Linked DNA regions of Homo sapiens. The protein of the gene in region 6 interacts with the protein of the main gene of each other region in a biochemical or structural test. Each region holds a gene or a part of one and is shown on either strand. Other genes may lie near its edges.

Region 1 (4,618 bases), on a different chromosome or scaffold from region 6:
CGTGTGTGTGTGTGCATTAAATAAGACTTGACTGGAATAGATGGGAATGATAATGGACTAAATAATTATTGGAAATGGTTAAAAGAATAATTAACATTTCAGAAAATATAATTAGTGAAATAAAGAGTGCACCTAAAATACATATCTAAATTACTTTTAAAAGACCCATGATTAGAAAGAAAGTAAAATTAATAAATGGAAATTGATACAAGACATAGCATAGTAAAACACTAAAGCATAGCACAGGGAATAAATTAGACTAAAAAAATAATTGAAAGGCTAACTAAATCAAAGAAATACATTTCAATAGCCAACTATTACTCAACGATTCTACTATGCATGGCATTATGAAGATGTGCCTGTTTTACCTAACACCCTATGTTTTCTTTAGGAGAAAAGACTGAAATAGTAGGGTGGAAGGAAGGCATGCTGGGTGGAGGAGGAAGAATGGCTCCAAAGTTCAGGGCTATCAGGCTATAGGAGAGAGGTGTTGAACCAGAGACTAAACAGAGTCAGGGAAAGGGGAGCTGGAAAGGGGGTGAATAACTTGGCGTGCGCAGGACTGACTTGTCCATTAGACGCAATAGGCACAGTGATTAGGGCCCATGATAATTTTAGGGCAACACAATGATTTAATTTGTTTGAAAATAAAAAAGAAACTTTAGAGTCAAAGAAAATGTTTTAACTTTTTCATAGATTAGGAAAAATGACAATTTTAGGCTACATGAAAATCTATTATTTTACTTTTCTTTTTTTCAGCAGAGGAAAGGGACCATAGAGGCAAAAGAACCCAGGGCCCATGAAAGTCATACATAGCCCTGTGTGTGCCCTGATAAGTTCAGTGACATGTCACAGGCTGAATATGGTTGGGGAATGCTGGATGCTATACCTGCTATCTTCAATGATCATATAAATCATATATCAATAATCATTGATAACATTATTTTCAGACATTATATTTAAAAATGGTCCACTACAAGGCCCATGTTGTTACAATGATGCAAGAAGAAAAACCCTAAAATGACCGTGACAGCCAATTTAGTACAAGTAGGGTTTGTATACACAAAAGGCACTTTCTGTTTTGTTTTGTTTTTCCCCACAAGCTCTTCGTATTCACAAGTACTTCTGCCGGCCAGTAAAGCCAACAACTTCTACGAAAACTTTTTTCCCAAGGGTGTATATGATTGCTTATCTTTTACAATGTTCACACATTTTATTCCCTCTCCCAAATCACTACAACTAAACAATTACTTTAACCAGCAGTTAAATCGAGCCTGCCAACAATATGGTTTAGTTCATCAGCAAAATCTCTTTTAGGGATTTTACCGGTTCGGCCATATCAGGGACACTTGAAAATTTGCCTACAAATATTTGCCTGCTTTCCAGTGCAGCCCTTGGAATTAAAAAAGAAAATTCCTGCCCTCAGATAAAGGTGAGATTTGAATGAATGAATCTGAATTGAGTGGTAAATAAATGAATAAATGCTGATTGGTTGGCTGACATTCTATATTCAGTGTTACTTTCTTCACAGAATGAAATGTCTGAGTGAAAAATAACAATTTTAGACAATTGACTAGCTTTTTATAAATGTAAGGAGACTTGACATTCCTTCGAAAAGTTATCCAAACCATGGATGGAGTTCTGCACCCTTCACCTGAAAGTTCTGGAATGACATAGGCATGGCCTATCGGCCCATGGATTTGCGTGAATGTTTTTGAAACCAGTTTTGAGTTTATAATGTTTTAATTTCCCCCTGGCAAGGAATATTTGCTTAGATCTAGTAGCAAACCAGTAATTTCCTTTGAGTAAATTTCCCTGTTTCTGTACAGGCCAAGGCATGAGAAATTTTCCCCATCTGATAGATTCATAAAACTTCAATAACTGGGTCACTGTAAGCTTTGTTGTCTGCTTGGGGCCAGTGCTATTTCTTGCTGGAATAGATGCAACTGTAACTTTTTTTTCTTTTACAGATAGGGTCTTGCTGTGTTGCCCAGGCTGGTCTTGAACTCCTGGCATCAAGCAATTCTCCCACCTTGGCCTCCCAGAGTGCTGGGGTTATAGGCATGAGCCACTGTGCCTGGTCAACTGTAACATTTGATTGCTTGGTGAGTTTAAAAATTATACTTGGATTGCACAGAAGACAAAAGCAATAATTTATGATGCCATACACTAACTATTCATGGCATTCCTGAAAGTAGTCCTTAAAGCTTTATTATTCCTTTTTCCTTTACTGTTCTGACAGTAAACACTTTGCACAAAGTTGAAACATTTATTAATTTATTCAGGAAGAAGAAGTGGTTAGTAATAATGGTGCTAGCTAAACTATTAATATGATAAACTCTTGTGTGCCCCCAAAAGACTGTTTAAAAATATGCAACTTTAAAATTACCCTTGAAACATTTTTTTAAAGAATGACTGCGTACTCCTCAGCAAATGTAAAAGAAGAGAAATCACAACAAACTGCCTCTCAGACCACAGTGCAATCAAATTAAAACTCAGCATTAAAAAATTCACTCAAAACCGCACAACTACATGGTAACTAAACAAGCTGCTCCTGAATGACTACTGGGTAAATAACAAAATGAAGGCAGAAATAAAGATGTTCTTTGAAACCAATGAGAACAAAGACACAATGTACAGAATCTCTGGGACACATTTAAAGCAGCGTACAGAGGGAAATTTATAGCACTAAATGCCCACAAGAGAAAGCATGAAAGATCTAAAATTGACAACCTAACATCACAATTAAAAGAACTAGAGAAACAACAGCAAACAAATTCAAAAGCTAGCAGAAGGTAAGAAATAACTAAGATCAGAGCAGAACTGAAAGAGATAGAGACACAAAAAACCCTTCAAAATATCAGTGAATCCAGGAGCTGTTATTTTGAAAACATCAACAAACTACATAAGACTGCTAACAAGACTAATAAAGAAGAAAACAGAGAAGAATCAAATAGATGCAATAAAAAATGATAAAGGGATATCACCACCGATCCCACAGAAATACAAACTACCATCAGAGAATATTATAAACACCTCTATGCAAATAAAACAGAAAATCTAGAAGAAATGGATACATTCCTGGACTCATAATGTGTCCAAGACTAAACCAGGAAGAAGTGGAATCTCTGAATAGACCAATAACAGGTTCTGAAATTGAGGCAATAATTAATAGCCTACCAACCAAAAAAAGTCCAGGACCAGATGGATTCACAGCCGAATTCTACCAGAGGTACAAAGAGGAGCTTGTACCATTCCTTCTGAAACTTTTCCAATCAACAGAAAAAGAGGGAATCCTCATCCTGATACCAAAGCCTGGCAGAGACACAACAAAAAAAGAGAATTTTAGACCAATATCCCTGATGAACATCAATGCAAAAATCCTCAATAAAATACTGGCAAACCGAATCCAGCAGCATATCAAAAAGCTTATCCACCACAACCAAGTCAGCTTCATCCCTGGGATGCAAGGCTGGTTCAACATATGCAAATCAATAAATGTAATCCATCACATAAACAGAACCAACAACAAAAACCACATGATTATCTCAATAGATGCAGAAAAAGCCTTTGACAAAATCCAACAGCCCTTCACGCTAAAAACTCTCAATAAACTAGGTATTGATGGAACAGATCTCAAAATAATAAGAGCTATTTATGATAAACCCACAGCCAATATCATACTGAATGGGCAAAAACTGGAAGCATTCCCTTTGAAAACCGGCATAAGACAAGGATGCCCTCTCTCACCACTCCTATTCGACATAGTGTTGGGAGTTCTGGCCAGGGCAATCAGGCAAGAGAAAGAAATAAAGGGTATTCGATTAGGAAAAGAGGAAATCAAATTGTCCCTGTTTGCAGATGACATGATTGTATATTTAGAAAATCCCATAGTCTCAGCTTTGGGCTGAAATTTTGGATCTCCTTAAGCTGTTAAGCAATTTCAGCAAAGTCTCAGGATACAAAATCAATGTGCAAAAATCACAAGCATTACTACACACCAATAACAGACAGAGAGCCAAGTCATGAATGAACTCCCATTCACAATTGCTACAAAGAGAATAAAATACCTAGGAATCCAACTTACAAGGGATGTGAAGGACCTCTTCAAGGAGAACTACAAACCACTGCTCAACGAAATAAAAGAGGACACAAACACATGGAAGAACATTCCATGCTCATGGATAGGAAGAATCAATATCGTGAAAATGGCCATACTGCCCAAGGTAATTTATAGATTCAATGCCATTCCCATCAAGCTACCAATGACTTTCTTCACAGAATTGGAAAAAACTACTTTAAAGTTCATATGGAACCAAAAAAGAGCCCACATAGCCAAGACAATCCTAAGCAAAAAGAACAAAGCTGGAGGCATCACACTACCTGACTTCAAACCATACTACAAGGCTACAGTAACCAAAACAGCATGGTACTGGTACCAAAACAGAGATATAGACCAATGGAACCGAACAGAGCCCTCAGAAATAATACCGCACATCTACAACCATCTGATCTTTGACAAACCTGACAAAAACAAGCAATGGGGAAAGGATTCCCTATTTAATAAATGGAGCTGGGAAAACTGGCTAGCCATATGTAGAAAGCTGAAACTGGATCC
Region 2 (4,008 bases), on a different chromosome or scaffold from region 6:
AATGAGAACACCGTGGATGTGTATGGGATTGTGTATGACCTTCGAATGCATAGGCCTTTAATGGTGCAGACAGAGGTGAGGCCAAGATCTGTATTTGACATTCCACCCTTCCCCTCCATTTTTTTTTTTTTTTTTTTTTTTTTTGAGACGGAGTCTTGCTCTGTCGCCCAGGCTGGAGTGCAGTGGCATGATCTTGGCTCACTGCAACCTCTGCCTCCTGGGTTCAAGTGATTCTCCTGCCTCTGCCTCCCAAGTAGCTGGGATTACAGGCACGCACACCATGCCCAGCTAATTTTTGTAATTTTAGTAGAGACGGTGTTTCTCCATGTTGGCCAGGCTGGTCTCGAACTCCTGACCTCAAGTGATCTGCCTGCCTCAGTGTCCCGAAGTGCTGGGATTACAGGCATGAGCCACTTTGCCTGGCCCTTCCCCTCCATTTTTAAAAGGTTGCATTGTGTCATGCACTTGTGTTAAAATATGTCACCCTTCCAGATCTTTCCAGCTCTTGGCTGTGAACTAACACTGGATTTCTTTGCAGACTTTAAGCTGACTTGGAATTAAATTACCCAATACAAGTGACATAGTAGTACTGATGTCAGTAATGGAACTACTACTGAGATAGTGTCAGGATTCTTTACCTTGCTGCCTCTGACTCATTAAATAATCTTAGGACATCTTTGAACTTTGGCTTCCAGGTTTTAAACTCATAAAACTGGTATTTTCCAGTCTTTGTTTCTAAGAAGGTCTGACCATCTTTAAAATAAGCTAATGAAACAAACTCATCAAACATTAATGATGTGACATATCATAATGCTGCTTAAATGTTAATACAGCAATTTATCCTCACCCAGACTTGTACATTTTAAAGACTATCAATTATCATAGCTACAGAAGGGTGGCTGACCAGCGGAGAAAAGGAACACTTAATATCTATGGTATAGTTTCTGTACTACTGCTGGATTTGGTTTTACCCAAACTGTTACTGAGAAGTGTTTTTGAGGCATGTTTTCAACAGAACATATTGCAAAGTTGCTTTCCTCAAAGGGGTGAATGTTCCTTGACCAGGATGAGAGCAGAATATTAATTTTGTATCAGGCTATCGTCCTGTACCGATTTAGAACTCTATGAATATGTGCTGTGTTTTTGAGTCTAGCAGGGAATGTTCTAGATGCCTGGGTACATTGCGTGCTCTGGGGTGAGCTTGGTGGTTGTTGTGGAAAGAGTGAAATTCAACTCCTGTGTTGGTCAAAAGAGAGATTTTCTTTTTTCTGCTATAATTATATAAAGTAGTATTTCTCAATCTTTTATCCTTTTTTGAGAAACATAGAACTCTTATCCCTGCTACTAGAGTCTAATCTCTTTTTTATATTTTGAAAACAATACTTATTCATATGAAAGCATTTGACAATATATTTTTCTCTCCTCTTTTTTTTTTTTTTGAGACGGAGACTTGCTCTGTCACCGGGCTGGATTGCAGTGGTGCGATCTCGGCTCACTGCAACCTCTGCCTCCTGGGTTCAAGCGATTCCCCTGCCTCAGCCTCCCAAGTAGCTGGGACTACAGGCGTGTGCCACCATGCCCAGCTAATTTTTTTTTTGTATTTTAGTAGAGATGGGGTTTCACCATGTTGGCCAGGATGGTCTCGATCTCCTGACCTCATGATCCGCCCGCCTCGGCCTCCCAAATTGCTGGGATTACAGGTGTGAGCCACCGTGCCTGGCCTCAATATATTTTTCTCTTACTCTTCCTTCCCCAATCCTGCTTCCTGGAGGTAGCCAATGTTTATAGTTTGGTGTACATCTTTATAAGACTCTTTATGTACATCTGTAAACACACACACACACACACGCACACACAGTACTTTGAAAAAATTGGATGCTGTTTTTTTTTTGAGATGGAGTCTTGCTCTGTTGCCCAGGCTGGAGTGCAGTGGTGCCATCTCAGCTCACTGAAACCTCAACCTCCTGGGTTCCAGCGATTCTCCTGCCTCAGCCTCCTGAGTAGCTGGGATTACAGGTGTGTGCCACCACGCCCAGCAAATTTTTGTATTTTTAGTAGAGACGGGGTTTCACCATGTTGGCCAGGCTGATCTCGCACTCCTAACCTGAGCCGATCTACCTGTCTTGGCCTCCCCAAAGTGCTGGGATTACAGACAGGAGCCACCGCGCCTGGCCAGATCCTGTTTTATGTATGTTGCTTCTCTGTGATTTTTTTTCTCCTCTTATAATATCATGGATATTTTTCTGTGTCAGCTTATACCCTTGTTTCCTCTTTTCTTCATCACTATCCACAGATTCTGATATACCTACCTGAAGGATAGTCCTCATCCAGCTCCACCTGATCATCTCCTTTTAACCTCGCTCCTCGGTTGAGCATTACAGTTGATTCTTACTCTGTACAGTCTCACTAGCCAAGGCAATCTTGTTGGACATTTGATTGTTCGAATGTGTGTGTGCATTTTTTCCTCTACATTTCCTCCTTCCTTTGCCCTTCCCTGAGACTGTGGCATTTTTCCTTGGGGAGGGGAGGTGTGGAGTGTGCTCTTCTGGTTGAGAATCATTGAGGAAGGACATCTTGCTTCTGTGATTTCAGATTTCACTGCAATGTTGTTACCTCTTGAAACATGTTCGCTTGAACCGTTTGCTGTTGGGTGGATGGGGTTTGGGAGTTGGGCGGGGGAATGACCTGTTTGAAAATAATTTTGGGTGCTAATTTCTGGGACCCATGTTCATTTTCTGTCTCTCTCTTTCGTTTTTCTATCAGGACCAGTATGTTTTCCTCAATCAGTGTGTTTTGGATATTGTCAGATCCCAGAAAGACTCAAAAGTAGATCTTATCTACCAGAACACAACTGCAATGACAATCTATGAAAACCTTGCGCCCGTGACCACATTTGGAAAGACCAATGGTTACATCGCCTAATTCCAAAGGAATAACCTTTCTGGAGTGAACCAGACCGTCGCACCCACAGCGAAGGCACATGCCCCGATGTCGACATGTTTTTATATGTCTAATATCTTAATTCTTTGTTCTGTTTTGTGAGAACTAATTTTGAGGGCATGAAGCTGCATATGATAGATGACAAATTGGGGCTGTCGGGGGCTGTGGATGGGTGGGGAGCAAATCATCTGCATTCCTGATGACCAATGGGATGAGGTCACTTTTTTTTTTTTTCCCCCTTGAGGATTGTGGAAAACCAGGAAAAGGGAGCTATGATTTTTTTTTCCAAAACAATTTCTTTTTTAAAAAAGACTATTTTATATGATTCACATGCTAAAGCCAGGATTGTGTTGGGTTGAATATATTTTAAGTATCAGAGGTCTATTTTTACCTACTGTGTCTTGGAATCTAGCCGATGGAAAATACCTAATTGTGGATGATGATTGCGCAGGGAGGGGTACGTGGCACCTCTTCCGAATGGGTTTTCTATTTGAACATGTGCCTTTTCTGAATTATGCTTCCACAGGCAAAACTCAGTAGAGATCTATATTTTTGTACTGAATCTCATAATTGGAATATACGGAATATTTAAACAGTAGCTTAGCATCAGAGGTTTGCTTCCTCAGTAACATTTCTGTTCTCATTTGATCAGGGGAGGCCTCTTTGCCCCGACTCCGCTTCCCCTGCCCCCTGTACATTTGTGCTCCATTTTTTCTTCCCTTTTCCCTCCCAGTTTTCTCCAAAGACTCTTCTGTTGGCAACATTTTCAACCCATTGGTTGGGTGAGAATGGCGACTCAAATATCACCTTGAGAATTTCTGTGGGTGGGAATGGGAGAAGCAGAGGAATCCTACAGTGGCAGAAATCCTTTTCTTGTCCCTGTATTATCCTTTTTCTCATGTCTGTATTTGGTATGAAGGATTATTTAAAGGTGCAATATGTGAATTAGTGATTCATGATGTTCTAGGTTTTTAGTAACGTTTTACTCAGGTTGGCATTTTATGTGTCTGTGTCTGTATGTGTGTGTGTATGTTCAGAAGCGTGGCAATCTGTGAACACTTCAGCGTG
Region 3 (4,618 bases), on a different chromosome or scaffold from region 6:
AGTCATAAGTTATTATCATAAGTTATTTATGATAATAGACAAAAGTGTACGAAAACAAGCCTCCAGTGACAAAGGGAAGCATGATGAAGTCAGTAAACCTTCCTCCTCAACCACTGTCTACACCCCTATGTGCCAGGCCAGCTGCCCTGGCCATTGAAGGTCCATTACGGACCATTAAAGTGCCTGGAGACTATCCCCTGGCCTCAACTGGCACAGCCATGGTCCTCAGTCAAATCCACTAGCACTAACATGTGATTAAGACAGCCTGGGTAAATCTCTCATTAGGAGAGGAGGTAGCTAGGCAAACAGCTGCTACTTCTCTACATTTTATTCATTATTCAGTACCCCAAGATATTTCTTATAGCAACTCTTCCTAATATCCCATGTTGCTCAGATATACATAATAAATTTAGGCAGCAGAGGTTAGAGGATCAAAATTAAAAATAAAATCACCATCATCTCTTGAGGTTTTCAAAAATAGTAGAGTTAGTAGGTTTTGTCTGTGTCAATATCATTTACCACAGCTTACTTTACCCTTTGCTTTCTATTAAAAATAAATAAATGCATACATGCAAACACCTATACATGCATACATGTATAAATTCTGTCATGATATCTGAAAACCAAGCAGTTATCTAAGATAGTCTCTTGCATTCACAGACATATTATCACCTTATATGCAGACTACTATTCTAATCAAATCCAATCACTAAGTCAGGTTTATATTTGGAAATATTGTTTCAGAAATTTGGAATACAAGCCAAAAATTTTTTAATCTTAAATAATAATTATATAGATTACTGTTAAGGAAAATGATATATATATAGTATACATTAATATATGATACATATATAGTAAGAACACTAACCTATACATTAAAATCTTTAATTTGAGCTCAAGTTCTTCCTACCTGTATGACTTTGGGCAACTTACGTCAAATGAAGGGGTCATTAATTTCTAAGATCTTTTTTAACACCAAATTCTACAAATTTTTAATGTTAGACTAATTCAATACTGAGACAAGGAAAATAAAATAATGGAAATAATATAAATTCATGCTTTAAAGTAGTCCTTAAAGGGAAAGCCAATAAATAAACACTCTCAGATTAAAAACAGGTGATCTGTAAATGTATACAAGCCTGCCAGACACAAATTGCCTCTTTCCTCTCTTTCTCTTCCACGCTTTCCCACTTAGAGATCACCTAGTGGTCCACAACAGAGAACAATCTGATCCTACTGTCTCTTCCCCATCATCTCCCATCTTCTTTCTTCCCCATTAGAAAGATTACAAACCCTGGGCCAAGCCAATCAGCACACTAACTTCCCCTCAGTCAGAGCCTTAGATTCAATGGTTGGAAACAAGATCAGTGGATTCAAGCACTGTAAACCTTAGAGCCTTATCAGGTGCAACCAGCAGATAATTCACATTTCCTTAAGGGACTTGAACCTGGGATCTTGTTCGGTGGGAGCTGCCACAGCCATCGTGCCTCTATATGGAGCCTAAGAAGCTCCTGGAATACCCTAGAACTAAACTAAGCAGGCAGAGAAACATCATGTCTCAGTGGAATTACGTCAACTTCTAAATCAAGCTCCACCTGAACTGTAGTTAGGAGAGACAAATAAATTCACCTTTTGTTGCAACCAGTCTGGGTTACATTTTCTGCCAAGATGCAACCAAAGAAATGTCTAATCTTTAAACATTTGTGTACATTCATTAACGAATCTTGACTCTACCAGTGACTCATATAGCCACTTGGGACAAGTTATTACTTAACCCCTCGAGGCCTTAGTTTGTAAAATGGAGATGATCCTCATCTTAAAGGATATTGTGAGGATTTAAAATTATGTAAAACACTGATCACAGGCCCTAGCAGGTCATGGGCTCTCAGTAAATTACAGCTCATATTGTTATTTTTGCAATTGCTTTAGGAAAAGCTCTCTTCTCCAACATATAAGAAAATAAATGAACCTAATTATTGCTCATAAGAATAAAAGCAGTACTAGTAAAAAAGACAAGTTCCAGAATTTGGAGTCAAACTAGAAAAAGTAACTGTGAAGTTCTTGAAGATATACGAAAGTGCCCTCTCAGAGTCTCTCCACCACTACTTCTCCTCTAACAGTGATCAGTCTCCTATTAAATCTTTCTTTAAACATTAGTGTCTAAATTAAGTACATATGGAAATACACTGATTTACAGTTCATTAATTCAATAAATTATATATTTTATATTTAAGACAATATAGGTTATGCAGACTTTTATTTACAGTATCAAAAATATAGAGAACGTTGCTATTATCCCAAACTCCAGCTTCTGATCTCATGATACAGCCAACTGTAATGGGTGAACATTAATTTTTACTTCTTGTTTTTTATTAGTCTCTGCCATAACCACGTCATTATGCCAATATTTTCTGAATCACTAGTGAATGGCAAAAACAAATATAGCAGTTGTGATTTAATCAGAGACAACACTGTTGAAACAGCTAGCACAAGTAGACACATTTAGAATAGTAAATGGATAACAAAAAACACTTACAGGCTCATTAATAAGAAGGCAATTAGGTCTTCTGGGAAAATTCATTTTCTAAAAGAATGCTAAAGCAAGCTATAAAATGCAAGTAAAATTGTGTTTTGACATGAATAGTGTACACTGTCTATTACATCATAATTTTTCTCTTGAGAAAACTGACAAGAATCTCTGTTCTTAAATATGAGCACAAAAGATAATAAAAAGAACACCAGTTATATTTAATGCATTCTACCTACCAACTCCCATTCATTAAATTTGACTGTCCTATAAATGAGCTCCTTACTACAAAGATCTTAAATTACACTTAGATGAAAAAGAGAATTATAAAGCAAGAGACTGCTACTAGTAATGTCAGAGGGAATAGTATTTCCTGTATCAACATAACATTATGCTAAAAATGATTTGCATATAGCATGTTTGGTTCCTTGAAGAGTATGTTTATCTTTAAATATTCTTATACAAAATATTCATAACCAAAACTAGTCTTACTTTTAGTCTCTTATGAAAATATTTTTTTTCAAAGTCATCTGAGCATTCTTTTAAAAAGCTTGTATAGTACTGTTGTTTTGATGTGTCTGGAATATTAAATAATAATCAAGTAAATATTGATCAGAAATATACTCCAGGGGCCGGGCATGGTGGCTCACACCTGTAATCCCAGCATTTTAGAAGGCTAAAACAGGAATATCACTTCAGCTCAGGAGTTCGTGACCAGCCTGGGCAACATGGTAAAACCCCATCTTGACTAAAAATACAAAAATTAGCTGGGCATGGTGGCGCACCTGTAATCCCAGCTACTTGGAAGCCTGAAGCAGGAGAATCTCTTGAACCCAGGAGGCAGAAGTTTCAGTGAGCCGAGATCGTGCCACTGCACTCCAGCTTGGGTGACAGGGCAAGACTCCATCTCCAAAAAAAAAAAAAGAAAGAAAGAAAGAAAGAAATAAAGAAAAAGAAAAAGAAAGGAAAAAGAAATATAAATCCAAGGAAATGTATTTCAGGTTATCATTAATCCTTTTGCAATATTCTTGAAATTCTATGGTAAAGTTCATGTGACAATCTTTTTAAACTGAGCTTTCTTTGTCCTAGAGCAGTGTTTCCCAGAATTAAATGTTCCATCAAATCACCTGGGGATTTCATCAAAATGCAGATTCTGATTCAGTAGATCTGGGGTGACTCTGATGATCACAGATCATCACAAATTTCCAGATGATGCTAATTATATTGGTCCATGAACCACAAAATCCCAGGACACCTTGCAGTGAGGAATCCAATGACCATGAAGCAATCAGTCATCAATCCCTGGGTGGGTAGTGAGGACCCTAGAAAGCCTTCCTCTCTACTCTTGAATTTACTGAATGACCTAAGAAAAATCACATCAAGGAACTGTTGCCAGTCTGTCACTTAAGCAGCTGCTAGGTCACCTCCACTATCCAACACGGATTAAGGGAATTTCTGTGGCTGGTCAGCTGCTGCCTTGAACAGCGCTTGGAGAATCGGCCTATGAGCAGCTGGTTAAGGAACAGGCTGCACTGGGAAGGGTTTATATTAATAGATACCAATCTGGAGAAAGATTTATTATTTTATCCTTAAAAGTATAACAGTATAGTATAGTATACAGTATAGATTATATACAGCTTATTTTCCACTTGTTTCTACATCTATGAAATAAAGTAGTGATCTATTTTCACTACTCTTTCCAAAAATGTTAAGTATGGAGTTTTGATACCATCTCTAGATGCCCTTACCTTCTTTCTAACCTAAATGTTTCTACAACTAAGTCCTAGCATTGTTAAGATGTGTGTGTGTGTGTGTGTGTGTGTGTGTGTATTCACACAGAGGACTACATACTTACATCTTTCACATTTCCCAACAAAATAAATACAAACAATAACTCCACTACGCACTATTTTATTTTGCCTTGTTTCTGAATTCCCCTTATTAAAACAATTCCTAGAATGACACCTGTTGGAGGATTCAGCCAGCACTGCCCTGTTCATCATTTTCATTATCAGAGCTCAATAATCATATCAAGTGGAAACACGGATTATTCCATTTAGGACAACTTAATTTGATCCTAAAACAACTGTA
Region 4 (4,618 bases), on a different chromosome or scaffold from region 6:
GTTATATAATAATACAAACTTTTCCTCGGGGTTCTTTACGCTCTGCTCTAAATGTATCATTTCAGGGGCTGCCTGAAGCATTTGGAGGATGAGAGGAGAGCATTTATTTTCTTTTGGAGAGAAATCTCAACAGTATGGGCATAGCTGGCTCCTTTTATTCCTGCTTTTCATCGTCTTTGGCTAAACTGCCATGGAGACCTGGCCCCTTCTACCTTATTTCAGACACTTCAAAGACCAGGGACTCCTTGGCTAGATCTTGAAGAAATGCCTCAGGACACTGAGGCAGACCCACTCACCTGAGTTCCTGAAGATCAAGCAGGTAAGAATCACCATGTAAAATTCAGCCTCCATTTTCCACTTAGCAACTGTTCATGCTTCGCTTGGGGAAAAAAAAAATTCTCCCAGATAAGAGAAGCAAAGACTAGGAAGGAAATGTGCCTTCATGGTGGGGGGAAAAGTCAGTGACGAGCACTTCCTCCTATTGAATTGTTTGGGGAAGTTTTACACCAGTGTCCTTTTGTCTGTTTCCTTAGAAAGAAGGGATTATGATTACCTCTTTTTTTTAATGTAGAAAATATTCCAGCCTTCAAGAGCAGAGTAAATCTCGTTAAGACCTCACCTACCTTTCCTTTGGCATGTGACTGCTTCTTAACCTCAAGAAGAAAGAAAGGAATTGAAATCTCAGATAATTGAATGTTCCTGAAACATTACATCTCTTCAGGTGATGTGATTCTGCTGAATAAACATAAGCCATGTAATTGATGAGGGTCTATGACAAGTGATATAAAGACATAAACATGTACTGTTTGTATAATGATATGCTGCGAGTCTATTGAGGAAAACCACATAATGATGGCACTTCTAGATCATTATCTCCCAAGTGATGACAATATTACATTTTGAGATCGTCATCTTCACTGGGGAGATGCAGACACTAAAATTAAACCCATCACATTATCTACTTTGGTCTTCCCCAAACAGAGGATGGCGTCTTTCCAAATAGAAAAAAAAAAAAGAATATGCTTTACTCAGTATTTAGTATTAAGAGTTTATTGGCAGTATGAAACAAAGTCAACATTGCTGCATTAAAAATTCATATATGAGCAGAACAGCTAGTGTTTGCTGAGGGTAGTTATTTTAATTTTTTTTGTCTCTTGAAGATTGAAAGCTTTCAGAAATGTAAGGACATACATGGAAATGTCCTTATAAGGAGCCTCGAAAATGGGACAGATTATATCATTCCTGAAGGCATATACCTTTTGTTGAGAGAGAGATTCCAGGTAGATAGCATATTCAAAAATCCCTTCTTAGCAAAAGAGAGACAAGTAGTTAAAACTCTTGATACTTCAGAGTTGCTACAAATTTGTTTTTCCCTTTTAAAGTAAAATGACTCACGATGTGGAAATACAGTGGATAGAGTTCTGGAGCAGAAGCCACCTTTATGCCCAATAATAGAGAGTAAATACATATATACCCAATGACAATCATTGTGCTCTGTAATTGTTTGATAGGAGGGACTATAAATACACATTTAATAGGTAATATTATCAAGACACATTTCCATATAAAATAGTTACTGTTTTTGATTTTTGTTTTTCAAAAACAAAGACTTCTCTGTTAAAAATCCATTATCAATCACTTGCAACTTTAGCAGCAAGATTCTGGTAACTGAGAAAGGTAATAGCACTTCAAAACAGGAACAGTTTAACAGCTGACAGTCCATTCACAAGACAGATTTTGCAAACATTAAAGCATCTAACACATAATACGAATGTCTTCAGCAGCTCATCCAGTCATCACCTGATGACATTTATTACTGAATATTACATACATACATTCTGTGTGGCAGATAGAGTCAGTACAGACAAAACAAAATCTGCCTTAGGCTGTGTGATAAACCTATCATACCTCCATCATCAAAAAACCTTCAGAATAATTTGGGGGATGCTTACAAATGCATTCATATACACAAGGAGCTGGAAATCTTAAATATGTTGCCCAGTCTTCCACAATCCATGCCATACATGGGCTTCAGAGCTTCTCCTTCCTTCCATTGCAGGAAGCTCCTTCTAGAAGCCTTGGGTGGGTAATTTGATTAATCACCCCAAGAGATTGATGGTCTGACAAGTCTTCAATGACTCACTGGACAGTCTCTGCTGAAAGTCTGCTCTCATACAGGCACAGAGCATGGTGCACAAATTCATACTGCTCACTGGTTTGCACCATTCCACCTCTGCAAGGAAGAAATCATAAAATAACTGATTTTGCTAAAATCTTGCAATTTCAAGTAACACAGAGATTTCATCCAAGCTAGGGTATTATGCCAAAGACACATAGAACAGTCGACCTAGTGGTTCTTTTGTTATCCCTCTTACCTGTGTCCAAATGTCTCAACTATCAAAGTTAACATGGTAATGTATATAAAGGGCTTAACACAGTTCCCAGCACACACTAGGCACGTGATTAATTTTTACCTGTGTAACATTACTGGGGAGGTGGTACAGCCTAATGATCAAGTACTTGGATTTGGCATCAGCCAAGGTGAGTTCAAATCCCTCCTCTGCCAATTCTTAGCTGTATGCATCTTGGACAAATTCCTCGAAACCCCTTGCACTTTAGTTTCTTCCTCTGTTAAAGCAGGATAGTAACAGTAACTACTGCTGTGAAGGTTAAATAAATTCATTGTAGCTGGTATATTTGTATTACTTCTCAGGTGCCTCATGATTCATCTCTTGTTAAAATGGTTTATACATTTGGCTTAAAATTGATTGACGGAGACAAACCAAACAAAACTCATCTGCAAAATGTTGCTTTCTACAAGTAAAATGAAGTCTACCTTGGAATGGTTTATTTGAATATGTTGTACAGAAGCAACCTTAGCCTTTTGGTGTACGGGGTGTCTAAACACAATAGTGGGTGGGTCCTTAAATGAGTTGGAAAAAGGGAATTGGCTCTGCTGTGACATTTTCCTCTTGGTTATCACCATTATCATCACTAGCTGCCCAGCACCCTCCTTGTCAATGGATTCATAGAAAGCACTTGCCTTCATGAGAAATAACGGTGCTTCTCATTATGTTTTTATATACATAATACCTATATCACATTTTCCCCCTTCATAATTATGATCCTTTTTTAATTTTAGTTTTTGAGAAAACGTCTCCTTAATTGCTTAGGCTGTTGTGCAGTGGCATGATCACAGCTCAGTGCAGCCTCAACTTCCTGGGATCAAGCAATTCTCCCACCTCAGCCTCTGGTGTAGCTGGGACCACAGGCACCACCACACCTGGACAATTTTTAAATTTTTTTTTTCTTGTAGAGACAAGGCCTCACTATGTTGCCCAGGCTGGTCTCCTGGACTCAAGTGATCCTCTTGTCTTGGGCTCCCAAAGTGATGGAATCACAGGCTTGAACGACGGTGTCCAGTCCTATAATTATGATTTTTTAGCTTGACAAAGTTACCAGACATTAATATGTTACTATTCCTGCTCACTGTATAAAAGCATCACTATCGGTAACTATTTAAAGTCTTGTAAATTCTCTGTAACTCTGCAATCATGCAACTGATCTTATCTTTTAGTTTAACTCTATGTTTTAACCAGATTTTTCCAAGTGGTTGTTAGTATCATTCAAAATAACTTTCAGATTATTTAGGCACTTCAACTTAAAAACAAGATATCTTGTCTCACTGTAACAAGACTTCTAGTTAATGGTAATAATAAAAACTGGGCTTCTATGTTTATTTGTCAATCTATGTCAATATTAGAGCAGTAAAACTTCCTTGTTTTAAACTAAACAGTGATTCCCCAGGAAAATTAACATGATGTCAAAATGATGTAATTGGCAAAAAATAAAGAGGTAAATTCACAGTTTTTGGTGACAGCAACTTATTGACAGAAGTATTTAATTGGTCTTCCTCCCCTAGAGCTGTACATTTTGTTGCATTGAAGGCAACCTTCTGGGCTAAGTATTCCTTGGTCAGAAGTGAACAACAGAAATGGCCAGCTGAGAATGTGGTAATGGTTTATCTTCTTAGCTGTGTGATGACATCTGGGCTCATCTAAAATCATAGCAGGTGTTCCGAAGATGCTGGCTTGAACTGTGAAGCTTGGGAGACACCACCACAGTAAATATTAGGGTAGCTCCAGGGAGCTGAGAGGTGCCTCCCTTCCTCTGGCATTTGCACAGCTCAGGGCACCATTACTCCCTCTTGAGCTGCAGACAGTATGTGGAAGCTTCTATGTGCTCCACCTCTTAGGCTCTGGTCTGTCAGCTTCCTCTCACCATTTACCTCACTTTGAGGCAAGATTTTCCCCTTCTTGTATGTTCTGGTCAGCACTGGTATTTACATGTCCAACTGGTGAATGAATGGAGACACAGTTTAGAATTTAATAACTGTTTCACCCTAAGTGGGTCAGTGGTGTAATTTAATGGTTGGAGTATATTTACTATGACATTCTGTTCACTAAATCAAGGTTGTTTTAGCCAGTGAAAGTGGGGAAGATGGAGAAGCATACTCATTAATTGTGGGCTGGCAAAATTCTTGCAGGTCTGAAGGCTTCAGGAAAGTATATGAAAAGTTCTCTTACCTCCCACTTAATTTGGAAAATAAAAATGAAAA
Region 5 (4,618 bases), on a different chromosome or scaffold from region 6:
CCAGATAGATATTTTTTCCTGGTTGTTAGTTGTAAAATAAACAGCTCTAAGCAGAAAGGGTTTCTTCCTTTCTTGCAGGAGTGCTTGATGGTGATGGGCCTAGCAGAACTCTGGGGCCCAGAGGCACTGATGCCATCCGTTAACGTTGTTGGCCTTGTTTACACCCACAGACCCACCTGTCTAGCCGCAGTTGGCACACAATACCCAGAATGTCCACTTCTCCTCGGGCTTTCAGCTGTTGACAGCCAATTCGCGTGGCGATGAAGCAGCCCGTCCGGCCAATCCCTGCACTGGAGATAGCCAGGGAGGGGACAGGGAGGTCATGGGAGACCAGGGAATATGAGAGCCAGGCCCCAAACTATGGAGAAAGAAATGGGACCTGCAGGTGCTATATTTTGGGGATAGGGCTCTGGAGATGGAGGCAGGTAGCAGTACTCTGCTTTCCAGTCCCCTTGGGGGCCCTGCTGGAGGCAGGTTTTAATTGGCATGGGAGGAGTTTACATTTCTTACCAGCCTTACTGTAAGCCTGTTGCAGGCCACCTTTTGGTCCCTGTGGACATTTTGACGATCTCCCTTCTGCTGAGTCTACAGTGGTTTCCAACAGACAGTTTCCCACTTGTGGGTGTGCTGACCCTCGAGCCCTCCTTATCTAACCTTGACTTCCTCTCAGCTCAGACTCATCTTCCACGCAGCCCACGCCCGGCCCCTCTGTTTCCCACCTTGGCGCCCTCCCACAGTCTTCTCTCCACTCTGTTCTGCTTTCTCTATCGTGCCCTCTCTTTATTTCAAAACCCCCTAGGCCTCCCCTTCCTCTTGCGTGAGCCCCTAATGACCTCCCTGCACATGTCCCAGTGCTACCTGTGGGTGGGCTGGGAGGCCCCTGTGTCATGCCTTTTGCCTCTGTGCTCTGTTTTATTTAGGATATGCACTCCCAAATGGTCCCTTTCTTTAGTCTTGTCCCCTACGACACCCCCTCACTCTGGCCCAATCCATTTTTCACTCTATAGCCAAAGTGTTCTTTTAAAATGGCAAATCCAAGTGTCTTAGCCAGTCCTCCAAGTCCCCTCATCATCTGACCTTCACTGGCCTTCCAAACCCATCTCTCATCATTACCCCACACACAACCTCTGGGCCTAACCTGTAACCCTGCTCCCAGCAGTGTATCCATTTTCACATTTCTTCTCTGGGCCTTAGCATGTGCTCTTCCACTTGCCTGGAACGTGTTCCCTTCCCTCTCTTCACTTGGCTAATTCACCTTTCAGGTCTTAGCTTGGCTTAGATGGCCTTTCTCTTGGAAAACTTTCTCTGGTCAAAGTCTGGTTTAGGAGACTTGGTTCTATGGTCCCCATAATATCCCCATCACAGCTCTCATCACATTGCGTGGTATTTAATTTTTTTTTGAGACAGAGTTTTGCTCTTGTTGCCCAACCTGGAATGCCATGGTGCGATCTCAGCTCACCACAACCTCCACCTCCTGGGTTCAAGCAATTCTCCTGCCTCAGCCTCCCGAGTAACTGGGATTACAGGCATGCGCCACCATGTGTGGCTAATTTTGTATTTTTAGTAGAGACAGGGTTTCTCCATGTTGGTCAGGCTGGTCTTGAACTCCCGACCTCAGGTGATCCTCCCGCCTCAGCCTCCCAAAGTGCTGAGATTATAAGCATGAGCCACTGCACCCAGCCTAATCTGCCTTCTTTCCCACCAGCCTATAAAACTGTCTGGGAAGAAACCAAACTGCTTGGTTCATAGCTGTCTCCTTAGCAGCTAACACCGTGCCTGACAAAAATAGGTTTTCCTTTTTTGAGATGGAGTCTCGCTCTGTCACCCAGGCTGGAGTGCAGTGGTGTGATCTCGGCTCACTGCCTCCAGAGTTTGAGCAATTCTCCTGCCTCAGCCTCCCAAGTAGCTGGGATTACAAGTGTGTGCTACCACGCCTGGCTAATTTTTGTATTTTTTAGTAGAGACAGGTTTTCACCATGTTGGCCAGGCTGGTCTCAAACTCCTGACCTCAGGTGATCTGCCAGCCCTGGCGTCCCAAAGTGCTGGGATTATAGGTGTGAACCACCGTGCCCGGCCAATAATAGGATTTTCAATACATATTTGTTGAATAAGTAAATGAGTTCCCCAACAGCTGGAATCCTGTTTATGTCCTCCTGCAGCTGACTGGGATCTTCCTGATATTCCATCCCCTCTATGGATGGGGCCTGGGTGTCCAGCCCAGATGTCTGGGTTCTGCGTGAAGGAGGTAAAAAGAACAGAGCCCTTGCTGAATGGCCTTGCGAGTCATGTCTGAGTAAGGACTAGGCTTGCCTGATGCTTTTCTGCTCAGACCCTTCCCCAGGAGAGACCCAGGGGGCAGGGGAGGGGAGCACAGTCCACAGGCTGCAGTGAAGGGAGGGCCACGCACCTGCAGTGGACTACGATAGGCCCGGGGTGGGCGGCTGTCTCCGGGCTCTCCTCCACCTCTGCCACTAGGCGCAGCAGGGGCCCAGCTGATTCTGGTGTCTGATGGTCTGGCCAGGCCGAAAAGAGGATGTGCTTTACTGACCGGCGCTCTTCCTGGTACTGGATTGGAGACAAGGCATGAGAACCAAGGTCAGGGTGGAGGGCACTGTCTACCTTCTTCTCTGGTGCCTGAGGAGGGCAAGGGCTGGAATTACCCTGTGGGGGGGTCATCTACTCAAAGCAAGCTAGGTTGCAATTTTCGTGCTCATTGTTCTCCACCACTTCCCCCTTCAAAATCCCGGGAAGGAGCATTGTCCTGGGAGAGGGGAGAGACCCAAATTCAAGCCCTGGCTCTGCTTCCCATAAGCACATGACTTTGGGCAAGTCCCTTGATCTCATTTTCTTCACCTGGAAAATGGGAACAGTGATATCTTACTGGTTTACTTGCCAGGATATTTGGAGGAGAATGAGTTGATAGAGGAATGCTTTCAAAAATATAAAACACCATAAAATAATAGAAGGCATTTTAAAAGCCCTTGTGTACATGTTATTCCACATCTCTTTCTCTTTTTTTGTTTTATTTTGTTTGTTTTTTTTTGAGACAGACAGTCTCACTCCGTCACCCAGGCTGGAGTGCAGTAGCACAATCTTGGCTCACTGCAACCTCTGCCTCCTGGGTTCAAGTGATTCTCCTGTCTTAGCCTTCCAAACAGCTGTAATTTTTAGTACAGACAAGGTTTCACCATGTTGGCCAGGCTGGTCTGGAACTCCTGACCTCAAGTGATCCGCCCCCCTCAGCCTCCCAAAGTGTTGGGATTACAGGCATGAGCCGCCACACCTGGCCTTCCACATCTCCTTTAACCTCCTCTCCTTCCCTTGGCCCTGCTCCTGGATCCTGCCTGTCCCCGCCTGACCATTTACACAGATGGGTGAGTACTTCCCGGTAGTCCTATTTGGCTTATTGGCTCTGCCCTATTAGACTAGAGGCTGAGGACAGTGCTCAAGTTTCTCTTTCTGCTATAGATGTGGGTTTAAGATGGTTTAGAAGAGCAAACCCTTGGCTCCTAGTGAAGAGCCAGCCTGAGTCCCAGAGATGCTGTGGGCGGCCCAACTTCCCACTGGGCCTGGCTCCGGGGGGGTGGTACCTGGATGGTGAGCTGCCGCACAGTGTATTCTGGGCACTCTTTCATGTCCTGGATGCGGATCTGGAAGGGTCCATAGGTTTCCTCTTCTGTGGGCCAGTAGTGGACACATTTCTAGGAGGGAGGGAGCTGGGAGTCAGAAGAGGGTCAGCTGGAGCAGGTGACAGGGCAGCAGAGAGGGGCTGGTATCTCCTCCCCATCCTCCACCCCTACTGGATGGGAGGTCAGCAACAGGGAGCCTGGCTCTTCTGAGCTTGATACCTGCAAGCAGAGTGCTCACCCTATCCCGTATTTTGGCCATAGACAGCCTCCCAGGGCTATATCTCAGGGAACTTTCTGAGAGGTATGAGCTGGGGCTGGCTCCCAGGGAAACCTCTGGTTCTGAGCTGCCCTGTGTGTGGGGTGGGGGTGGGGTGGGCATAGCACTTTCTGGGTTCATCATGAACTGTGGCTCTGCCTCCTACCTCCTTGCCCTCTCGGAGCTGAGTGAGCATGACAATGAGGGACACTTCCTCTTGCCACACCATCTCCCAGAAGTCCGACACAGTGTTGGGCATGGGGCCCTGGGTGGCAATGTAGACCTTCTCCTTCCCGTCATAGCCCTGGAAGGTGGAAGCACAGGGGAAGGGGTGGGGAGCAGTGAGAGCAGAGCTCTGGGGAGATCCTAGATGCCTCAGGTGCTGGGGTCAGCCTGAAGCTGTGAACCACACGTGTAGACGTACACATGCACGAACACGCACACTCAGAAGCCACATGATGGAAAGGATACGGGTTCTGGAATGAGGATCAGATCCCTGTTCTGCTGTTTCCTGGCTGTACCACTATAAGCCAGTTACCTAGCCTCCGTAAGCCTCAGTGGTATCATCTGTAAATTGGGCATAATAATATCTATCTTGTAGGAATGTAGAGTGGATTAAATTCAGTAAGATATATTGAGAGTCTAGCCGATAGCAAGTGCTCTATAAATGTTTATTCCCTTCCTCCCCTGCTGCTTTCTTCTAGCACAAAATACCTAAACAGTGTTTAATATT
Region 6 (4,618 bases):
TGCTGACTGTGCTTTATATGAAGGAAGGTGAAGGAAAGCAATATACTTATTTTCCTAAATCATCAACTACGTGCCATAAATTCATACTCAAATCATAAGAAAAGTGCTCAAACTTGGGATTGTTTAATGTTTTTCTATGAAAAGCGTTTACTACAGCTCCCTAAGCAATAAGCATGAGAAAGGGTAAGAGGGCAAGGAAGAGGCATGCTGAGGCAGCTTGTTGCAAACATCAAGTGCTTGAAACAATGCTCTGGGGTTTTTTCATTCTAAAGTGGACTTGGTCGACCCATATATGATTGGCGAGGAAATGCTGAAAGGTCAAAGGGTTGTTAGACTACTTTGCCAGGCAATAGCAACACATGACTTTGCTGAACATCCTAGAAGCCAAGAGAACTGAAATCTAAAAGACAATAAAAGTACTCACTAAGCAGGATGATGATGCAGAGCAGGATGGCAATGATGGCACCGGTGCCAAGCCCCGCACCCACAATCCTGTCCACATCTGTGCAGTCCCCGTTGGAGTCACACTGGCAAACCTTCACACGCAGGATGGAAATATTTGATTTGGGAGGATTACCCGAATCTGTGATTATGATGGGAACTTCATAGATACCAGCTTCAAGAAATTTTATCTTTAAATTAAGCTGAGCAAAATCACCTATATGAAAAAGGAAAAACATAGTTTGATAGGTAATACTTAAAGCGATAAAAAAACACATAGCATTGTTCAGGATGTATTTACTACCTAATAGTACACATAAAGCGGATTACAACTATGCTGCATTCTAAATACTTTTTTGGCCGTAAAGGCCTTTAATATCTTACTTAAACTTTAAGTAGCTTTTAAAATATGTATAATGAGAAGATTATGAAGCACATAAAATTAACTTTTCATGCCAGGCTTCAAAATCTCTCAACTGCACATATATTCAAATAATTAACCTGTTCTTACCATTAAGCCGAGTGATGGTCCAATTTCTCTTAATAGTCACTGGAGATAAAGGAAGATCAAAAGCAAATGGTCCAGCATTTGGATCAATGTCATAATCAAGTGCTGTAATATTAATTGAATTGGGGTCTGGAGTTTCGCAAGTCTCTGCCTCTTGAGGTAACACTTGAGGGGCATTGTCATTAATATCAAGTAAATAGATCTGCAGCGTTCCTGTTCCACTCATAGGAGGAATTCCTGAAAAGAGAGAAAAATCACAAATGATGCTGAACAGTTCTCTCCAATGAGCCTCAATTATGGTGAAATTCTCAAAGCTTCTAACCTTCTGGCCCTTTTAACTGTGTAACCTTGGAAAAACATAGTTGCTATGGCATCTGGGCAGACCGTTTCCAGAACAAAGCCCCTTCTTGCTTCCCTGCTAGAATGACCCTGAGCTGCCACTGCTGCTCTGCAGGAGCTGAGCAAGGTGACGAAGAATGCCCCTGTGATGGAATCCCGTACCCTCCCTGCCCCTCCTGCCCATTATTCAGGGCTTGCGTAGACCATGCTCCTCCAGGCACTGTGAGGAGTGTTGGAGATGCAAACACAGGGCTCGTGATCCTGTTGACACTATTCTTTTTATGGAGAACCAAGACATATGCATGAAAGAACATAAGAATGCTTTTAACGCTCTAACACAGCTTTGACTTAACGCAACAGTCTACAGACAAGTGATACAGAACCACAGACCTCAACTCAGGAAGGAACATCATGCAGAAGAGAAATGATATTTACTAACCAACCAACTACCTGCTTGAGATCATATTAGGCTGCTCTATGTACACTCTTTGATTGTAATCCTATGACACAGGTTTACACAGATGAACCTGAGTCTGTAAACTGCTCATGGCCACACACTCTTGTAAGTGGTGGAGTTGCTACTAAATATTGGTCGGCCTGACCTCAAACCCATTCTCATTCCACTATAATAAAATGCTGTCTCCACCACTTTGTGTGATAATTTAATCTGGTGATTTGCTTCTGCTACATTGTAAATATTCACACACACACAAATATATAATATGTTTATGAATATTTTATAAATAATGCTGTACACTGAAGACCAGAGACTTAAGCGACCTGCCAAAGGTCATGCAACTAGGAAGGTGCACATACATACACAATCCTGGGGAGGGAATAAGGAGGAATGTTTACCAACTTCTATGAGGAATATGATGGTTCTAAGAGCAGGGAGAGTTGAACTGGAAGGGTATAGTGGCTGTTACAATATTCCAACACCACCATGACCACTATGATACTCAACAGTTTGAGGGACTTCGAAATTTACTATCACATTTAATATTACTATACTTTTATAACAACTATATAGAATATGTAGGTAGTGAAACAATTTATCAATAATGAAACTAAGGCATACAGAGTATAAGAGCTTGACTAATCATTAACGAACAGAGCTGGGGCTCCAAGTCTAGCCTTGTGGCTTAAAGGAAAGTGCAATTGCAAAGCATCACAGCTACATACATTATAACAGGTCACTTCTCTCTCTTATCAAAAGCCCTTTCAATTAGAAAACAATCCTTCCTGGTGAATGAGAAATCTGGTTGTAACTCACAACCAATATACATACATACATACATACATATAATTTTATGGCTCTTTAGATCTTAACATAATGATTCAAGATGCATTACTTTCAGTACCACTGTAGAAGAAAGCCACGGTTTATGGCAAAAAAGCATAAAACAGGTACTAATGACATGCTTTGATGTACAATGGCAAAAGCTATTCCTACAAAGTTCCAACACTAAATATTTAAACAAGAGGTCCCATATTAAAAAGGATAAGAAATATTTCTTTGGTTGGTCACTACATAGATTTTCTACAGATAGTAATCTCATTAAATCTTAGTATACAGATTTAGAAAGGTTCACTGACATTATTCTTAAAGTATTGATATGTCTTATTTTAGTAATGCAAAATATTTTACAATTTGAAAATTGCAAACACCAACTTCAACCACCAAATTGAAGCCTGCTATTTTTTATTAAGTACCAACATTCATATTCATAGTTTAATACTGAAAATATTTTAAAATATAGTTGTGGTTCAGTTTTGAAACTATTAATACGCAATAGGAATACTTAGTTGAGTGGTTAGTTCGTGTCAGCCACTGTTTCAAATGCTTCATATATATGTAGAAGTCATTACATTTTAGTTAAAACACTGAGTTAGGTGCTGATACGTATCTATTTAACAAAAAAAGGAAACAGATATATTTAAAACCTCATGGCAATCCCACAGATTCAAAGTGGGAAAGCCGGAGTCTGCACCTGGGGGTCCTGTAGAACTCCAGAGCTTGAAGTCTGAAACACACATCGTACTGAGAGCTAACGAAGCAAAATAAGCCCCTCATCAGGTTTACAAAAGTCCCCTTTATATTACATATCTGAAAAAAGTCCTTATCTATTAATCTTAACCAATGAGAAACCAGCAGAGACTCAGAAAGGAAAAAAAGGTGCTACATATGTATTCTAAAACCCATACCCTGAAGCTCACTACTCACTTATCTCAATTTATGCACAAAATTAAGTTTCCTAGCCCATGGCAGACAGAGGCAGAGAATTATAAAAAGGAAGACTGATAGAGATGCACATATGAAAGGCAACAGAGTGACTAGAAGACATATAAAAAGAGCCACTGAAAAAACCCAGTGTCTAGGGCCACTGAGGATGGACTTAAGGCATCAACATGTGACAGGACAATAAGATAACAAAGGTATGTCTACATGAACGATGGATGGACATCGAGAACAGTCATTGCAAAGACAGTGAAGGATGTTCCAGAACACCTGTCTGAAATGATAAATAAAAGCTGGACCTCGGAATTATAAAAGTCAGTTTTCCAGGCAATTGAGTTTTGTAGAAAACTTTAATTCCTGAGCATGCATGATGAGGATCTACTGTCTTTCATCAACATACAAGAAAAAACAGCGAACATACCATTGTCAGAAGCAAGGAAAGTAGCATTATATATATTGTTTTTCACATTTGGTGATTCTCGGTCCAAAACAGCAATTGTAGTTATTTGTCCATTCACAGGATCTATTTTTAGCCAATTGGCAGGATCAGATAATTTAGTGTATCTACAAAATGAAAGTGAAGTTTAATTTCTTTTTATGAAACTTTAAAAAAACATATTTTACAGGTTTAGTTCCAAATGCAACTGGCTCATTAACTTGCATTTCTGTAGATGATGGCTGGACATACAGCTTTAACAGGAAAAAGTATTTTTGTGACAGTGGTATTGGGAGGCACATAAAGGTTGTGTTTGGTCAGGCATGTAGGAAACATTCTACAGGTGTCTGAGGGACAAGACTAGGTGCACAGTCTCCCTAATGTGGGCTAAAGCAGATTGGAAAGTTATCATTTTAGGTTCTTGTCCACTTCAACAGATATCAATGGTTCAGGTAAAATAGCTTGAATATAGTTTCTAGATAAGCAGTAGTCTCAATGTACAGGAGTTAAGAGAAATTATAATAGAAATTGAATACTGCATCACAGAACACTCCTAAAACATTTTAACACTTTATCATGGCCAACATGAAGCCACACTGGAGAGACCACCATAATCCCATTCCTACTTGAATCTTTCACACTGGGCCAAGCCTCA
Region 7 (3,820 bases), on a different chromosome or scaffold from region 6:
TGGGGTGGACCCACTGCCTGAGGTGCTGGAGATAGGCAGGGTGGACCCACTGCCTGGGGTGCTGGAGATGGGTGGGATGGACCCACTGCCCGGGGTGCTGGAGATGGGCAGGGTGGACCCACTGCCTGAGGTGCTGGAGATGGGCAGGGTGGACCCACTGCCCGGGATGCTGGAGATGGGTGGGGTGGACCCACTGCCTGGGGTGCTGGAGATGGGTGGGATGGACCCACTGCCTGGGGTGCTGGAGATGGGTGGGATGGACCCACTGCCCGGGGTGCTGGAGATGGGCTGGGTGGACCCACTGCCTGGGGTGTCGGGTACAGGCAGGTGGACCCATGGCCCAGCTCCCAGCCCAGCAGCCTGTTAGGAACCTTGTACAGGGGCCCTTGACAATTCTGCTTTTCTTCTGGAAGGTTTGGGAAGTATTCGCACGACGAGCTCTCCATCCTGGTGCCGCTACAGCAGTGCTGCAGGTACAGCCCCTGCCGGAGCCGGCTCCAGCTCCACCCTCCTCCCTACTGCGCAGGAGACAGAGGAGGCCACAGCCTTCCCCACCCCACCCCGGCCATCACATGGGAGAGAAAAGGCCCCGAATTCAACCACAGCCCTGAATTCAACCCACACCCTCACTCGGCGGCCTGGAGGCGCAGACCTCACCCGCCCACCACCCCAGGCCCATCCAGCTCGAGCCCCCTCGGGCCTCCACTCTGTGTCCGTCCTGCCACCCCAGTTACAGAGAGAGCTCGAGGCCAGGGCAGACGCCAGCTGAGACACAGGGACCCTGCTCCCGCACGCAGCTGCCGGTCTCTGCCACTGCCACCTTCTGCGGGGGTTCAGACCCCCTTTCCCCCGTTTCATGGCTGGGGACGCAGGCTTGCAGGGCAAACGCTTTGTACTTCTCTAAGGAGGCATCACAGCGCCCGTGTTGTGCGGATGTGCTGAGCTGGGGTCGGTCTCCTGGGTGAGTGGGCCGCCCTCCTCACCTCCCCATCCTCCTGGGTGAGCGGGCCGCCCTCCTCACCTCCCCATCCTCCTGCCGGGCCCCTCTGGGAAATACACCGGCCACCACATCCTGCAAGGGCACCCTCATCCCTTGTGCAGGTGAGAGGCGGCAGACCACGCCGAAGCAGGTCACACAGCCCGGAGGCTGATGAGGTGTTGGATCGCAGGCCCCTCTCTCGCGGTCTCTCTCGTCTCTGCCGTCTCTATCTGTGTCTGTCTCTGTCTCTCTCTCTGTCTCGGTCTGCCTGTTTCTCTTTATCTGTGTCTCTTTCTGTCTGTCTGTCTCTGTCTGTCTGCCTTTCTCTCTCCCTCTCTTTCTCTCTGTGTCTCTCTTTCTCTGTGTATGTCTCTGTCTTTTTCTCTCTGTCTCTGTCCCCCTCTTTCTCTCTCTGTCTCTCCCCCCACTCTCTCGATCTCCCTCTCACTTTCTCTCGCTTTCCCGTGGGCAGGCATCTCCCCTGTCCCGTGCCAGGCCTGATGCCCCTCTCCTCCCCAGGATCCGGAAGTCCACCTACCTGCGTCTGCAGCTCCTGGCCAAGGAGGAGTACAAGCTGAGCCTGCTGATGGCCGAGTCTCTGCGGGGGGACCAGGTGGCACCCGTGCTGTACCAGCCGCACCTGGAGGCCCTGGACCGGCGGCTCCGCGTCGTGCTAAAGGCCGTCCGGGACTGCGTGGAGAGGAACGGGCTCCACAGCGTGGTGGATGACGACCTGGACACTGAGCACAGAGCCGCCTCGGCGAGGTAGTGTCCGCCGGCCGCTGCGCTGCCCGGGACGGAGACAGAGGCGCCGGACCTCCCAGCAAGCGCATGCGCCCGTCGTGAATTCAGTGAATTCAGAGGCAGGACGGGATCATCCGGAGTCGGGAGCTGCTGCCACAGGAGGCGAGGCTCCCCAGGTCTCATAGGACACATTTTGTCAGTGTTTGACCAGAAAAGCTTGGGAAGGAAGCGCTGTCTGTGCTCACGGACAGAGGCGGCCGGCGCCGGAGGCATTCCATCCTTTCTGTAGGGAAAGGAGCCTTTATTTACTATTTTGTATTTATATTTGATGAATAAGTATATAAACAGAGACGTGTACACAGATGCCAATCACCTACCAAACCAAACACGAGGACCGCCCTCCCTGGTTCTGGGGGCCCCTCAAGGCCAAGCTCACCCCTCAAGTGCTCTCACACTCGGGACCTAATTCAAGTAAAAACCCTTTCTCCTTCCTGGGGCCTCGGCTCCTGGAGGGCTGGAGGGTCTCGTCTGAGGACGGGAGGAGGCTCTCGCTGGACGTCTGGCCTGTGCGCTGGTGGACGGATGCCTACGTGGTTTTGGAGGACCCGATGACCAGGCGTCCTGCGAGTCCGCCCGCTGGCCTGCAGCACCCACCTCGGACTTGGCTGTGGACGGTTGGTGCAAGTGCATCCTGCAGGGCTGGCTGTGCGCAGCTGTGGGCTGACCTTTGCAGAGTTTTGTGGAATAGTTTGCAATGTCATAAAAGTGCAATAAAGGTACAGCAGATGTGTGTCGGCCTCACGGGGCGGGTCCCTCACACCCTGGTGTGTGGCTGCCTGTCCACCCCCTCTCCAAAGAAAAACCAGTCCTGGAACCAGGCATGGCCAGGAGTCGGCATTCAAGGTGGCCTGGACCCGAGGCCTGCTGGGGTCGGAGGGGGCTGCCTGCCAAGCCCTGGTGCAAACAGGCCAGGTGGGGCCCCACCTCCAAGGCAGGGCGGTCCGTCCTGGGTTGCTCTCAGAGGCTGGGGCCGCGACCCAAAGCTGCGGCGGCCCCGAGGGCAGCCCCTGTCTGTAGCCCTGGCATGGGCAGCTTCCAGTGTTCCAGCAGGACTGGGCAGCCATGCGTGGGGCAGCTGCCCCGGGGCTGTGGTGAGTGAGGGGCACCGTGAAGGGTGCCAGCCCCTTCCCACTGCTGGCCTCGGGGCTGCAGAGATGGGGCTGGGCTCCCAGGCCAGCATCTCCCCTGCTGGCACCATGTGAGGGGCAGAGGCAGGAGCCAGCATGCTGGCTACCACCTGCCCAGCGTCACACGGCCCAGGAGCCCTAAGAAATCAGCTGTGGGGCCGGTCACTGTGGCCCCCTCTTCTAAGAGCCTCTGCATCCACTCACCTGTCCGTTCCACAAAGTCCCTGACACCCATTTGAGCTGTGCCAGGCTGGGTGCAGCGGGGCCTGAGAGACTCAGCTCTGTCCTCATCACCGCCGCCTTGCAGAGCAGCGGGAGACGCACAGTAAATGCACAGATGGGTCACAAACAGGGCCCTGCACATGGCAAGGAAGTCGGCAAGGGCAGAGGATGCGCCAGGCAGACATTGCGTGTGGGGCAGCCAGGGAGGTGCTGTGGCCCCTTCATCCACTGGCTGGAGCCGGCCCCCCCATGTCTCTCTCTGTTTGGGACTGAACCAAAAGAGGTGATTAAGTGGCGGGAGGGTTCGGGTGGTCCCGGTCCAATCTGACAAGAGCCCTTATGAGGAGAGGAGACACAGGGACGGCCCCGTGAGGACACGGAGAGGATGACATCCACGAGCCACAGAGAGGCCTGGAGGAACCAGCCCTGCCGTGCAGTGACCTCGGACTCCAGCCTCTGGGACTGTCTGTGGTTGAAGCCACCCCATCTGTCCATGGTGCTGTCACGGCATCCTGAGCGGACTCATGCAGGCAGCCTCCAGGAGGGGCTTCAAGGGGCCCCATGAAGGACGGGAGGCAGTGATGCCAGGAGCAGGGCCGGAGGCGCAGGTGGAGAAATGCAGCGGCCGTGCCCACCCTGCCGCGTGGGGCTGGCCCAACAGTGCCAATGTCAAGACCCACAGCCATGA

Evidence for each region.
Region 1: of the proteins of CDH2 (region 6) and PTPRB, one has a biochemical effect on the other in vitro, tested with the Homo sapiens proteins (one large-scale study listed by IntAct).
Region 2: of the proteins of CDH2 (region 6) and PTPRJ, one has a biochemical effect on the other in vitro, tested with the Homo sapiens proteins (one large-scale study listed by IntAct).
Region 3: of the proteins of CDH2 (region 6) and PTPRK, one has a biochemical effect on the other in vitro, tested with the Homo sapiens proteins (one large-scale study listed by IntAct).
Region 4: of the proteins of CDH2 (region 6) and PTPRR, one has a biochemical effect on the other in vitro, tested with the Homo sapiens proteins (one large-scale study listed by IntAct).
Region 5: of the proteins of CDH2 (region 6) and PTPN7, one has a biochemical effect on the other in vitro, tested with the Homo sapiens proteins (one large-scale study listed by IntAct).
Region 7: of the proteins of CDH2 (region 6) and FAM20C, one has a biochemical effect on the other in vitro, tested with the Homo sapiens proteins (one large-scale study listed by IntAct).

Annotation. Positions count from the first base shown.
Region 1 is NC_000012.12:70,626,782-70,631,399, forward strand, and holds part of PTPRB (receptor-type tyrosine-protein phosphatase beta), read right to left. Parts: intron 1-4,618. UniProt on the Homo sapiens protein: Plays an important role in blood vessel remodeling and angiogenesis. Not necessary for the initial formation of blood vessels, but is essential for their maintenance and remodeling. Can induce dephosphorylation of TEK/TIE2, CDH5/VE-cadherin and KDR/VEGFR-2.
Region 2 is NC_000011.10:48,164,441-48,168,448, forward strand, and holds part of PTPRJ (receptor-type tyrosine-protein phosphatase eta isoform 1 precursor), read left to right. Parts: coding exon 1-75; intron 76-2,763; coding exon 2,764-2,922; 3' UTR 2,923-4,008. UniProt on the Homo sapiens protein: Tyrosine phosphatase which dephosphorylates or contributes to the dephosphorylation of CTNND1, FLT3, PDGFRB, MET, KDR, LYN, SRC, MAPK1, MAPK3, EGFR, TJP1, OCLN, PIK3R1 and PIK3R2. Plays a role in cell adhesion, migration, proliferation and differentiation.
Region 3 is NC_000006.12:128,510,046-128,514,663, forward strand, and holds part of PTPRK (receptor-type tyrosine-protein phosphatase kappa isoform b precursor), read right to left. Parts: intron 1-4,618. UniProt on the Homo sapiens protein: Regulation of processes involving cell contact and adhesion such as growth control, tumor invasion, and metastasis. Negative regulator of EGFR signaling pathway. Forms complexes with beta-catenin and gamma-catenin/plakoglobin.
Region 4 is NC_000012.12:70,637,045-70,641,662, forward strand, and holds the end of PTPRR (receptor-type tyrosine-protein phosphatase R isoform 1 precursor), read right to left. Parts: intron 2,629-4,618; exon of another isoform or gene 2,475-2,628; intron 2,234-2,474; coding exon 2,140-2,233; 3' UTR 1,035-2,139; downstream 1-1,034. Other genes in the region: PTPRB (receptor-type tyrosine-protein phosphatase beta), read right to left, coding at 297-351. UniProt on the Homo sapiens protein: Sequesters mitogen-activated protein kinases (MAPKs) such as MAPK1, MAPK3 and MAPK14 in the cytoplasm in an inactive form.
Region 5 is NC_000001.11:202,150,135-202,154,752, forward strand, and holds part of PTPN7 (tyrosine-protein phosphatase non-receptor type 7), read right to left. Parts: intron 4,190-4,618; coding exon 4,052-4,189; intron 3,717-4,051; coding exon of another isoform or gene 3,702-3,716; coding exon 3,591-3,701; intron 2,566-3,590; coding exon 2,408-2,565; intron 291-2,407; coding exon 177-290; intron 1-176. UniProt on the Homo sapiens protein: Protein phosphatase that acts preferentially on tyrosine-phosphorylated MAPK1. Plays a role in the regulation of T and B-lymphocyte development and signal transduction.
Region 6 is NC_000018.10:27,984,576-27,989,193, forward strand, and holds part of CDH2 (cadherin-2 isoform 1 preproprotein), read right to left. Parts: intron 4,092-4,618; coding exon 3,949-4,091; intron 1,187-3,948; coding exon 953-1,186; intron 659-952; coding exon 425-658; intron 1-424. UniProt on the Homo sapiens protein: Calcium-dependent cell adhesion protein; preferentially mediates homotypic cell-cell adhesion by dimerization with a CDH2 chain from another cell. Cadherins may thus contribute to the sorting of heterogeneous cell types.
Region 7 is NC_000007.14:258,233-262,052, forward strand, and holds the end of FAM20C (extracellular serine/threonine protein kinase FAM20C precursor), read left to right. Parts: intron 1-413; coding exon 414-473; intron 474-1,498; coding exon 1,499-1,748; 3' UTR 1,749-2,540; downstream 2,541-3,820. UniProt on the Homo sapiens protein: Golgi serine/threonine protein kinase that phosphorylates secretory pathway proteins within Ser-x-Glu/pSer motifs and plays a key role in biomineralization of bones and teeth.